2 separate regions of the Homo sapiens genome follow, and region 2 is linked to region 1. The links come from fine-mapping of genetic effects on gene expression. A gene starts in region 1. The other region holds a variant in brackets. All regions are shown on one strand. Distances are between the middles of the regions.

Region 1 (5,374 bases):
GCTGGAGTGCAGTGGCGCCATCTCAGCTCACTGCAAGCTCCACCTCCAGAGTAGCTGGAACTACAGGCGCCTGCCACCACGCCCGGCTGATTTTTTTTTGTATTTTAAATAGAGACGGGGTTTCACCGTGTTAGCCAGGATGGTCTCGATCTCCCGACCTCGTGATCTGCCCTCCTCGGCCTCCCAAAGTGCTGGGATTACAGGCGTGAGCCACCGGGCCTAGCTTGGGGAAGGTATGTTCTTAAGCCTTCTCTTTTCTCTAGCCTAAGCTGGACTTCTGGCACCTATACTTCCAGGCAAGTGGATTCCTGTTGTCCACAACAGTCCTAGCCAAACAAATTCATGCTCCTAGTTCGGAAAGCATTATGGAATGGTGCTGAGAGTTAATTCTCTATAACCTGATCATCCTTGGAATGAATTTTACTTTTTAAATTTTTTCATTTTTTATAGAGACAGTATCTCACTATATTGCCCCGTCTGGTCTCGAACTCCTGAGCTCAAACAATCCTCCTGCCTCTGCCTCCAAAGTGCTGGGATTAGAGGTGTGAGCCACGAAACCTGGCCCTGGAACAAACTTTAAAAATTGGGGTTTCCAGCCAGGCACGGTGGCTCACGCCTATAATCCCAGCACTTTGGGATGCAGAGGATCACCTGAGGTCAGGAGTTTGAGACCAGCCTGGCCAAGATAGTGAAACCCCGTCTCTACTAAAAATACAAACATTAGCCGTGTGTGGTGGCCAGGTGGCCTGTAGTCCCAGCTATTCGGGAGGCTGAGGCAGGAGAATCGCTTGAACCCAGGAGGTGGAGGTTGCAGTGAGCCGAGATCGTGCCACCGTACTCCAGCCTGGGTGACAGAGCAAGACACCATCTAAAAAAAACAAAATAACAAAAACAAACAAAAAAATTTGGGGTTTCCAAGCCTGCCAAGCTCTGTGTTCCCTTCTCCGGTAAAAGAATCCTTAGAAGTGGGGCAAAAATTCCAGTGGGTGGGATTTTTGTTTTATGAAGCCAACTCCTGCCTACAACACTGTTCACCCATCTAGAGATGTCACTCTGCAGACACATCCCTGGCCCTGCCCTGGCCAAACACTCACCTGCTGTCTGGATGACAGAGGCGATCCAGTACACCCGGCTGGGGAGCACAGCATCACTGTTGAGCACCTCCACCTTCATCCCTTTCATCACATCCTCCCACTGGTCATAGAGTGGGACCTGTGTGGCGATGAGAGTGTACCGAGAGAGTGAGCTAACTGTGCTAGCAGGGGAGACAGACTGCCTCACGGCCTCAGTCAAGTCCTCGTTTGCACCTCAACTTTTCACATCACCCACTGTGTGCAGAACCAGCTACTAGAGATAAAGAGATGAGGTCTCCTGTCCTTGAAGAGCTAAGCCGGGAGTAGAGGTGGAGGTGGTGGGATGCAGGGTGATGGCTAGAGACCCAGAGTCAGACAGAACCGAGTCCTAAAATCTTTATAGGACTGGTTTCTTACTGTATCATTTTGGGCACATGATGCCTTGGTGAGCCTCGATCCCTTCGTCCCTGTGCCAGCCCGAGCAATGGCAGGGCGCTGATATTAGCACAAATATACTTTCCTTCAATCATCATACAAACCTGGGCTGTGGGCATTATGACCCCCTTGTTTACACACAGCCATCCACCTGCAAGTTTACTCTCTACCTCCCCTCCTACTGAAATGCTCCAGGGGGCCAGGCATGGTGGCTCACGCCTGTAATCCCAGCACTTTGGGAGGCCGAGACGGGCGGATCACCTGAGGCTGGGAGTTCGAGACCAGCCTGACCAACATGGAGAATCCATGTCTCTACTAAAAATACAAAATTAGCCGGGCGTGGTGGTGGCACATGCCTGTAATCCCAGCTACTCCGGAGGCTGAGGCAGGAGAATCGCTTGAACCTGGGAGGGGGAGGCTGCTGTGAGCTGAGATAGTGCCATTGCACTCCAGCTCTGGGCAACAAGAGTGAAACTCCCATATCGAAAAAATAAATAAAATAAAATAAAGTGCCCCAGGACAGCACTGGACTGTTTCAGTTGCCTTCCCAGTACCTAATCCTCACTTTCCTGCCAATGGTACTTTTGATTCTCCTTTGGGAGAATCACTTTTTTTAGAGTCTTGCTCCGTCACCCAGGCTGGAGTGCAGTGGCGCAATCTCAGCTCATTACAACCTCCGCCTCTCAGGTTCAAGGGATTCTCCTGTCTCGGCCTCCCAAGTAGCTGGGATTACAGGTGCCTGCCACCACTTCCAGCTAATTTTTGTATTTTTAGTAGAGATGGGGTTTCACCATGTTGGCCAGGCTGGTCTCGAACTCCTCACCTCAGGTGATCCACCCGCCTCGGCCTCCCAAAGTGCTGGGATTATAGGGGTAAGCCACTGCGCCTGGCCAAATTCACCTTTTTTATTCTCAGCCCTGGCTTCAGCCAGTTGAGGTATCCCATTCCATCTCCCTGGTCACTTGAGTTTAGTTCATCACAGAACCCGGACACAGTTGCGCTAGCCCAGGCACGCAGGGGCAGGCTTTTTACAAAGCAAATTGGATTATATGTGTTAGACACAAGGATGATGCAACTCCCTGGAAATGAAAATGCTGAAACTATTAGAGAATTCAGGGCAAAAAAGAGGCTCCCCCTCCAGCAGGAAGGAGGTGCACCTTCATTAGCCATTCAGAGACGAGAGGAGTGAGTTAGCTGAGTCAAGAAGCAGCTGTCATTGTTCAGGGCACTCCCCAGAGTTCAGTGGCAGTTCTGAAAGGAGGAGAGGAAGTGGCTTACTCTGGGTAAAAGACTCCCTACTTCCTCAAGACTAAAGAGGCCTCCTCCTGGATTTCCCGGAGCTTAGGGACGTGGTGTGAAGACAAAACAAGAGTGCTGTTGTGGGCTCTGCTCTCCCGGCCTGCAGGCTCCACACGTCACAGCTGCTGGATATTCGGTTCTTGCGCTCAAGCCCCGCCCCTAAGGGCCTTGCCCTTCGTTCTGGCTTTTACATGATCCGCATCGAGGAGCCTTTTACAGAAGTGGCTCCAGGAGCATCCACATCTGCCTCTCGGGGCCCACGGGGCCCAGGCCAGCTACAGAAGCACCCTGCTTTCCATGGGAAAATGCTGCAAATGGGGGAGAAAGGAGAGAAGGGTTTCAGACTGCAAAGACCCTTCGACATCAGCTAGCACCAAGTTCCATCATGTAAATAAACTGAAGGGCTTCAGACCGGGAGTGAAGCCAAGCAGGTGATAGAAGTGTTTGTAGGAGGATTTTTTTGACATAAACATGAAATGGAGCGAGTGGTAACGCCATCCGTCTCCTGCCCAGACCTCCCCACTGTCACTGTCCAGCCTGAAGCCGCCCTGGTGAAGCAGGTGGAGGAGCAGCTCCAGGCCCGGCTCCCCGGCCTCCCTCCCTCAGCTCCAGGGCACTCACGTGCTTGAAACAGCTGACGGGAGCAGCCTTGTAACTGTGATCCTTCAGGAACTTCCCCCAGTCGAAGCCCAAGACCAGAGCTGCAGAGCAGAGAGGACGAGTCAGACTAGGAGCCTGCGCAGCAGCCACTCCAGGAGCCTGGACCCCAAGGGCCCTGTGGGACCTGCAGAGGTAGGTCCCCCACCCCCAGCAGCCCCTCTCACAGCGCTGCCCACGACACCCTCCTTCACTCCCATACCTGATCCACCAGTGGCCATGAGGGACCACTGTTGAGGACTGAATTGAAAGGTGGCAAGACTCTCAGGAGTAGAGGAACATTCAAAGGGAAATTTCTCGCCCTTCTTCCCCCAAAGGGGAAAACTGAAATATCCCTGGGCTTAAATTCCTCCCTCCGCCCTGAACCTGATTGGCCACACCCAATCTAAATGTGGGGGAGGGGGTGCGCACACACCAGGGCCCCTCCAACTGAGCTCCGGCCTGCTGAGCTCAATTTCAGTTAGAAACTCAGAACAATGATAGCAGAGTTGCTTTATGCATACATTTAACTTGCTTAGCAATTGCTACACACTCAGAGAGAGGCTCCTTTCCTTATCCCACCACCCCTCTCCAAACCTGCCTTCAAACCATATCTGGGCCTTCGTTGCCCCAGGGAAACAGAAACCAAAAGGATAAAAGCAAAGAGAAACAAAAACAGCCAATTCTTGGCTTTTGAATTATCATGGGTAGGAGTCCTGATAATTTAAGGGTGTTTGAAGGCATTTTTCTGGGTAATTTCCACAATACCCAACAGGTGAGGAAGATGCAATCCGCAGTGACCCTGACTTAGGGCACTTTCTACCTGGCCGGTTTGCCCAGTCTTCATTCCTAGGAAAGGCCACCCCAAACCCAGTCTCCTCCCCAGCCACGGCAGCTTCCTAAGCAGGGCCCTCTGCTATCTTACCGTCTTGTCCTGTTGGTGTCCCATCTGCCAGCTGTCCTGTCCCTTGAGAGTGGAGGAAGGCTCCAATTTTGGCAGACCAGGCAGCCTTGTGCAGGACTTTGGCTTTTTTGGTCGGTGGTTTTCCCTGGAGAGGAGGACAGAGGCTATGTGTAGCCTGGCGGCTGGGATCATGAGTCTGGATTTGGGCCGCCAAGTTGAAGTCCTGGGCTTGGGCCAGTGACTTAACCTCTTTTGGGCTTCAGTTTCTTCATGTGTGAAACAGTGATGACAATAACAATCCTGAGCTCAGGGGGTGGTTGTGGGGAAGCGTCGGGGGTGCTAGGGGGTGCTAGGCAGTGCTGCAGAGCAGGGAGAGACCCATGTTCTATCTTTTAAGCCTTTCTGTCCTCCCAGATTCAAGTCTCAGTCATCTCCTTCCTCCAGTGTCGCTACTGATAGATCCAAAGCAAAGAATGGGCCTCACAGGGGCCCAGAAACGCTCATGAACTGGGAGGCAACCTTCTGTACATACGCGAATGTTTGGGAGAGGGTCCACATAGGCGAATGTTCGGGAGAGGGTCCACATAGGCGAATGTTCGGGAGAGGGTCCACATAGGCGAATGTTCGGGAGAGGGTCCACATAGGCGAATGTTTGGGAGAGGACCCACAGCTTTCATTAGGTACTCAAAGGGGGTCCTCCCTTTCCAAAGGGAATGGCCACTGATCTGGTCTGTATTTTGTAACTTAAGTACTGAACAGGAAGGCCAGGAATTTACTAAAGAGATCAGTGAAGCAGAAATCTGGGTTTAAGTCCCAAACAAACCTACAGGGCAAATCCCAGTTCTACAGTTTTTAGTTGTATACCTTTAAGTAAGTTACTAAAATTTCTGAGCCTTTATAAAAAGGAATTTTTTTAAAAATCAAATTTTTTAAGATCGTTAATTGGACTGAGAATGTCAAGCCCTTAGCAAGTACTCCCAAACCATAGCTATTAATATTACCAATATTATTCTTAGCTCTCGGAAGA
Region 2 (5,338 bases), 44 kb after region 1:
CCCGACCATCCATCAGATCGCAGGGGATGAGAGGATCAGGATCAACAATGGGAGGCAGGGAGTTGGCAGCAGGGCCAGCAATGAGGCGGATCACAAAGAAGACCTGAAAAACAGACAGTCTCTTTTTTTTGAGACAGGGCCTCGCTCTGTCATCCAGGCTGGAATGCAGTGGCGTGATCTTGGCTCACTACAACCTCTGCCTCCTGGGCTCAAGCAATTATCCCACCATGGCCTCCTGAATAGCTGAGACCACAGGCCCACACCACCACACCTGGCTAATTTCTGCATTTTTTGTAGAGACGAGGCTTCGCCATGTTGCCCAGGCTGGTCTCAAACTCCTAAGCTCAAGTGATCTGCCTGCCTCAGCCTCCCAGAGTGCTGGGATTACAGGTGTGAGCAGGTACAGCAGGCTGAGCACCAATGAGACTGGCGAATGCTGAGTTAGTTTCACCACCATACGCCTCCTGTTCCTTTTCCTGCTTTACCTCTTTGGTCTCTTGAGACTGACTATAAATAGAACTGAAATGCACATCCTGTGATTTTTTTCTCCTTCATTCAGTAACTCCTTCAGAGTAACAATGGTCTGGGTGAGGTATAGCACCATGCACAGTGGACATTTTGCCTCAAGGCAGTCTACTTTAAGATGCAATCCATGGTTTAACCTCAATCTAATTACAACAAACCAGACAAATCCAAATATGGAGACAGTATGAAAAACAACTGGCCTGGACTCATGAAGGTCCCCTATGCAACTTTCCTGTGTAACTTTTCCTACAGGTTTGGAAGGGAATGGAATGGATAAAAAATCTTAGTCTTTGTTGACAAAGCAATAAAATTCTTGTTCATTGAAGTTTGAAAAAACTTGTAACAACCATCAATTCTCATAACCATTAGTGTAAAAGGTATAAAAAGCTGGTATTACATATGTATTTGACATTAATTAGTATATAACTATAAACACCTATTAAAGTAATAAAATGTAAAACATCCCCTTAAGAAATTAGGAACTTGTGAGAAACTGCTGTACTGATAACAGATTATTCAACATCTGTGCACACTGGCAGCCACACTCACAGTCTCTGGCCAGCAATGTTCGCTGCTTCTGTCACCCTACAACCAGGCCAATACTTGGATTTACAACCTAAATTTAAACAGCCATGGAATGTGTCCACAATTTAAGTCAAACCTATTACAATATATTCTAAGGGCTTTTCCCAACTGCCTAGGATTCTGTGGCATTACTTACTGCTTGAAATAGCTAGTAACTATTAATTGTTAATAATCATTACCTAACGTATTAGAACTCAGGAATCCTTCCATTTCACTAGCATGGCTGAGATAATGGTTATTACCATTATTACATCGTAGCCCATTATTCTAGGCTAACAAAAAAGGGGTGGTGATGGGGGGAGCAGTGGGGGAAAAGATACTTTGAACACCTATGTATATAGGTGTTCACCATGATAACATCATTATAACAAATTCCTCTCTAAAAAAGATTTTGTTAACTATTTCTCTCCCAAAGAGACTGTTTAACCAATTTTTAGGTACGGAATTACAACCTGAAATCAAGCCTTCATTTCCCTCTCAACTTAATTACCACTTCCTATAAGAACTTGATTATATGTCTGAGAACCGAGATAGTAAAATGAGGAGTCTGACTGAACAATCGAGATTACTACCATTGGACAAACCCTGAGAGGAATTACTCTTCAATTCTCCTGGCTTTCGTTATCAATTATATGATATTAAAGAGAGAAAAAAAAAACCTTACCCAGTTATTTTCCCAAATGACTGCAAGAACAACTAAACAATGTAAATGATGAAATAACTCAAAAAGTTTTGAGAAGGGGGTTGTAAGTCCATATGTGGAAGTTTAACTTTTCTCCAATTCTATTTACTAATTCACTTTCAGAAAGGTTAAATCTTTTTATTTTTTGAAACAGAGTCTCGTTCTGTCACCCAGGCTGTAAGTGCACTGCAACCTCTGCCTCCCAGGTTCAAGTGATCCTCCCACCCCAGCATCCCAAGGATTACAGGTGTGTGCCACCACGCCAGGCTAATTTTTGTATTTTTAGTAGAGACGGGGTTTCGGTTCGCCATGTTGGCCAGGCTGGTCTCCAACTCCTGACCTCAAGTGATCCGCCTGCCTCAACCTCCAAAGTGCTGGGATTACAGGCATGAGCCACCACGCCCAGCGAACAGTCAGTGTTTTTATTCATTTCTTATTTCTTTTTCTGAGGTGGAGTTTCGCTCTTGTTGCCCAGGCTGGAGTGCAATGG[A/G]GTGACCTCGGCTCACTGCAATCTCCGCTTCTCAGGTTCAAGCAATTCTCCTGCCTCAGCCTCCTGAGTAGCTGGGATTACAGGCATGTGCCACCATGCCCAGCTAATTTTGTATTTTTAGTAGAGCAAGGTTTCACCGTGTTGGTCAGGCTGGTCTTGAACTCCTGACCTCAGGTGATCCACCCGCCTTGGCCTCCCAAAGTGCTGGGATTACAGGTGTGAGCCACCATGCCTGGCCAGAAATCTTGCCGTTTTTCCCCAACTCTGGGTGGCTGCATCTTACCTCTTTATGCTTCTCCATGGTGGCATATAGTTTCTGTGAGAGGTCGTTAGATACATTGGGCATCCCGGGTTTCTTCTTGTTGCCCCTACTCAGGCTGCTCTTATTTTTGCTGGTTTTCTTATTATTCTTCTTTTTAGCATTTTTGCTGTCTCCCTTGGTCACCTGCAGAGTAGCACAAAGGAGACAAGAAAATAAGGTTTTTGTTAAGTAATTTGGGAATAGCACAGAATATCTCCCTTCTTTGAAACTAGATATCATAATCTTATGCCTGTAACTTATTTTACTAGCTGTTCTCTTCACTTATTCTTTCTCCTTAAAGTTGTTATTTGACCTAATTTTCTCCCAGTGATCTTTAAGGCAATGGCAGCCCTTTAGCTTTTTGCCTAGAAGAGGCCACAGAATGTGCAGACCCTGTAGATTGATTGAATGTATCCCAGATTGGGGCTAGGGAACAAGGAAGGGGTGGCACTTTGGGGTAGTGAAGAGTGTATCAAAGTGGGGAGCCAGAAGACCTTGGTTTTATTTCCTTCCACTCATATTCTAAAATGTTATGAGCCTACAAATACTAAATGACAAGGCTGTAAGAGTTTGTTAACAGACTATTTAAGGGTGCCTTTTGTTAAGTTAAATTCAATGGAGGTAATTCGAGATATGCTATGGGGAAATAACTGGTGAGGTTACTAAGCCAGGCTTAGTAACTTAAATTCTGGCTCAGGCCTATTTTGTATAGCTAAGAATGGTTTTTTACATTTAAAAAGAGTGTGTTTTTAAAAGACAGAAAATATGCCAGAGATATGTGACCCACAAGGCCTATAATATTCATAACCTAGTCCTTCAGATAAGTAATCTTCTATCAGTTTTTCAGGATTTCCTTCAGTTTCTTTTATCATTTCACATTACTCAAAGTCTGAGATGCCATTTTAAAAGGGGCTCTGATGCTTTAAAAGTTTAATACCACTGAAACAGAACCCTAATAACCTCTCTAAGCCAATATTTCTTGTCCAACTTAAAGAGCTCTTTTACACCTGAAAGCTTTAAAACCCAATTGAAAGTTTAAGTGCACTTCTGGATTAAATATTAGAATCATGATAGAAGTTTCAAAGGAAACTCAATGCCCTTACATCTGTGCTTTCATTGCTGGTGTTTTCCTCTCGTTTTCTCTCTTCTTCCTCCTGTTCCAGTTCCTTAATGCTTTCTTCCAGAACATTGGGCCAGAAATCACCCTCGAAATAAGGCAATTCCTTTGCACTTGTTAATCTATCTTCAGTAGCTTGTTTAAAAATATCCTGTGAAAACATGCATGTACATATAGGAATTTCTATGTTCTTTTAAAGCATTGATTATACAGAATAATCATGGCTGACAAGAAACATGAAAGCTTAAAATGTCTTGAAAGCTGGCAGAGACTTTATACCTAAGCCGTAAGCCAGGGAGTATTTAGAAAAATAAATAGTGAAAAGGCCTGGCCTAAAGTCAATATTTCCGGTTTTCTATTTCTTCTACCCACAAAAACAGGGAGCTTATCTGCCTTTATATAACCAAGTGGCAATTATCCTGCCAGGATCAACGTCAGGGTGGTAGCACCATCATGCATGCCATGGCCCCTACCACTCCTTATCACAGAATATGTGGTATGAAGCATGCCCTCCTCACACCCATCCTTGGAATTTCAGCAGCTTTTACTGACAGCTTTGTTCAAAATGACCAAAACTACAAATACTGGAAATAGTATCTGCTGCAGAATGATTTGCTGGGCTGCTTAGGAAAACTTCTTTATTTAGTTGAACTACTAAATTGAGGAAGACAAGTCTGTATCATGAGACAACCTATATTTATGAATAACATAATACTGTTAATTAAGAATATATTTTTGGCCAGGTGCAGTGACTCACACCTGTAATCCCAGCACTTTGGGAGGCCGAGGCAGGTGGATCACCTGAGGTCAGGAGTTCGAGACCAGCCTGACCAATGTGGAGAAACCCCGTCTCTACTAAAAATAGAAAAAATTAGCCTGGCTTGGTGGTGCATGCCTGTAATCCCAGCTACTCGGGAGGCTGAGGTAGGACCATCACTTGAACCCAGGAGACTGCACCATTGCACTCCAGCCTGAAACTCCGTCCAAAAAAAAAAAAGGGAGAATATATTTTTGGCTGGGTGATGTGGCTCATGCCTATAATCCTAGCACTTTGGGAGGCTGAGGTGGGCAGATCACTTGAGCTCAGGAGTTTGAGACCAGCCTGGGCAACATGGTGACATCCTGTCTCTACAAAAAATATACAAAAATCAGCTAGCTCTCGTAGTGTGCACCTAGTCCCAGCAACTCAGGAAGCTGAGATGGGAGGATGGCTTGAGCCTGGGAGGCACAGGTTGCAATGAGCGGGTATCATGCCACTGCACCCTAGCCTGGGTGACAGAGAGTGACCCTTTCTGAAAACAAAACACCCACACCCCTAAAACCCTAACCAACCCAAACCAAACCAACAAAAAACCAAAACAAAAAGATATATTTTAAGGCCGGGCACAGTGGCTCATGCCTGTAATCCCAGCACTTTGGAATGCTTGAGGCCAAGAGTTCAAGTCCAGCCTGGGCAGCATGGCGATACCCCAACTCTATCCCCACCCTCCCCCCAAAAATAAATAAAATAAAATTTTGGTTACATGTTTAAAACAGGGATTTCTTGATCTACCGCTCTTCAAAACCTGGTTTTTCTTATATTGAAAAATTTTGAATATACAAAATAAAAGCAATCAAATTAGCATTTTTAGGAATTAC

Alleles and levels. Alleles are on the strand shown, and positions count from the first base shown. SD is a standard deviation of normalised expression in the study named.
For the expression in esophagus mucosa of the gene that starts at base 3,004 in region 1, allele G in region 2 goes with a higher level than allele A (moderate effect, 0.69 SD a copy in GTEx).

The links. PIP is the estimated chance that this variant, and not a neighbour inherited with it, causes the effect.
Region 2: its variant is the best candidate, but not a certain one, in a credible set for the expression of L3MBTL2-AS1 in esophagus mucosa (GTEx, PIP 0.68).

The regions. Positions count from the first base shown.
Region 1 is chr22:41,215,257-41,220,630 of GRCh38, reverse strand. It overlaps L3MBTL2-AS1 (L3MBTL2 antisense RNA 1), which reads left to right and starts at 3,004. Exons shown (of 3, transcript NR_148200.1): 1 at 3,004-3,599. L3MBTL2 (L3MBTL histone methyl-lysine binding protein 2) reads right to left here. Exons shown (of 17, transcript NM_031488.5): 4 at 4,369-4,492; 5 at 3,429-3,508; 6 at 1,095-1,212. RefSeq lists enhancers at 1,436-2,132, 2,133-2,830.
Region 2 is chr22:41,171,012-41,176,349 of GRCh38, reverse strand. EP300 (EP300 lysine acetyltransferase) reads right to left here. Exons shown (of 31, transcript NM_001429.4): 28 at 3,687-3,851; 29 at 2,566-2,727; 30 at 1-103. Among named protein-coding and RNA genes, the nearest start is that of EP300-AS1, 24 kb to the left of the region's middle. The variant A/G (reference allele first, on the strand shown) is at 2,283.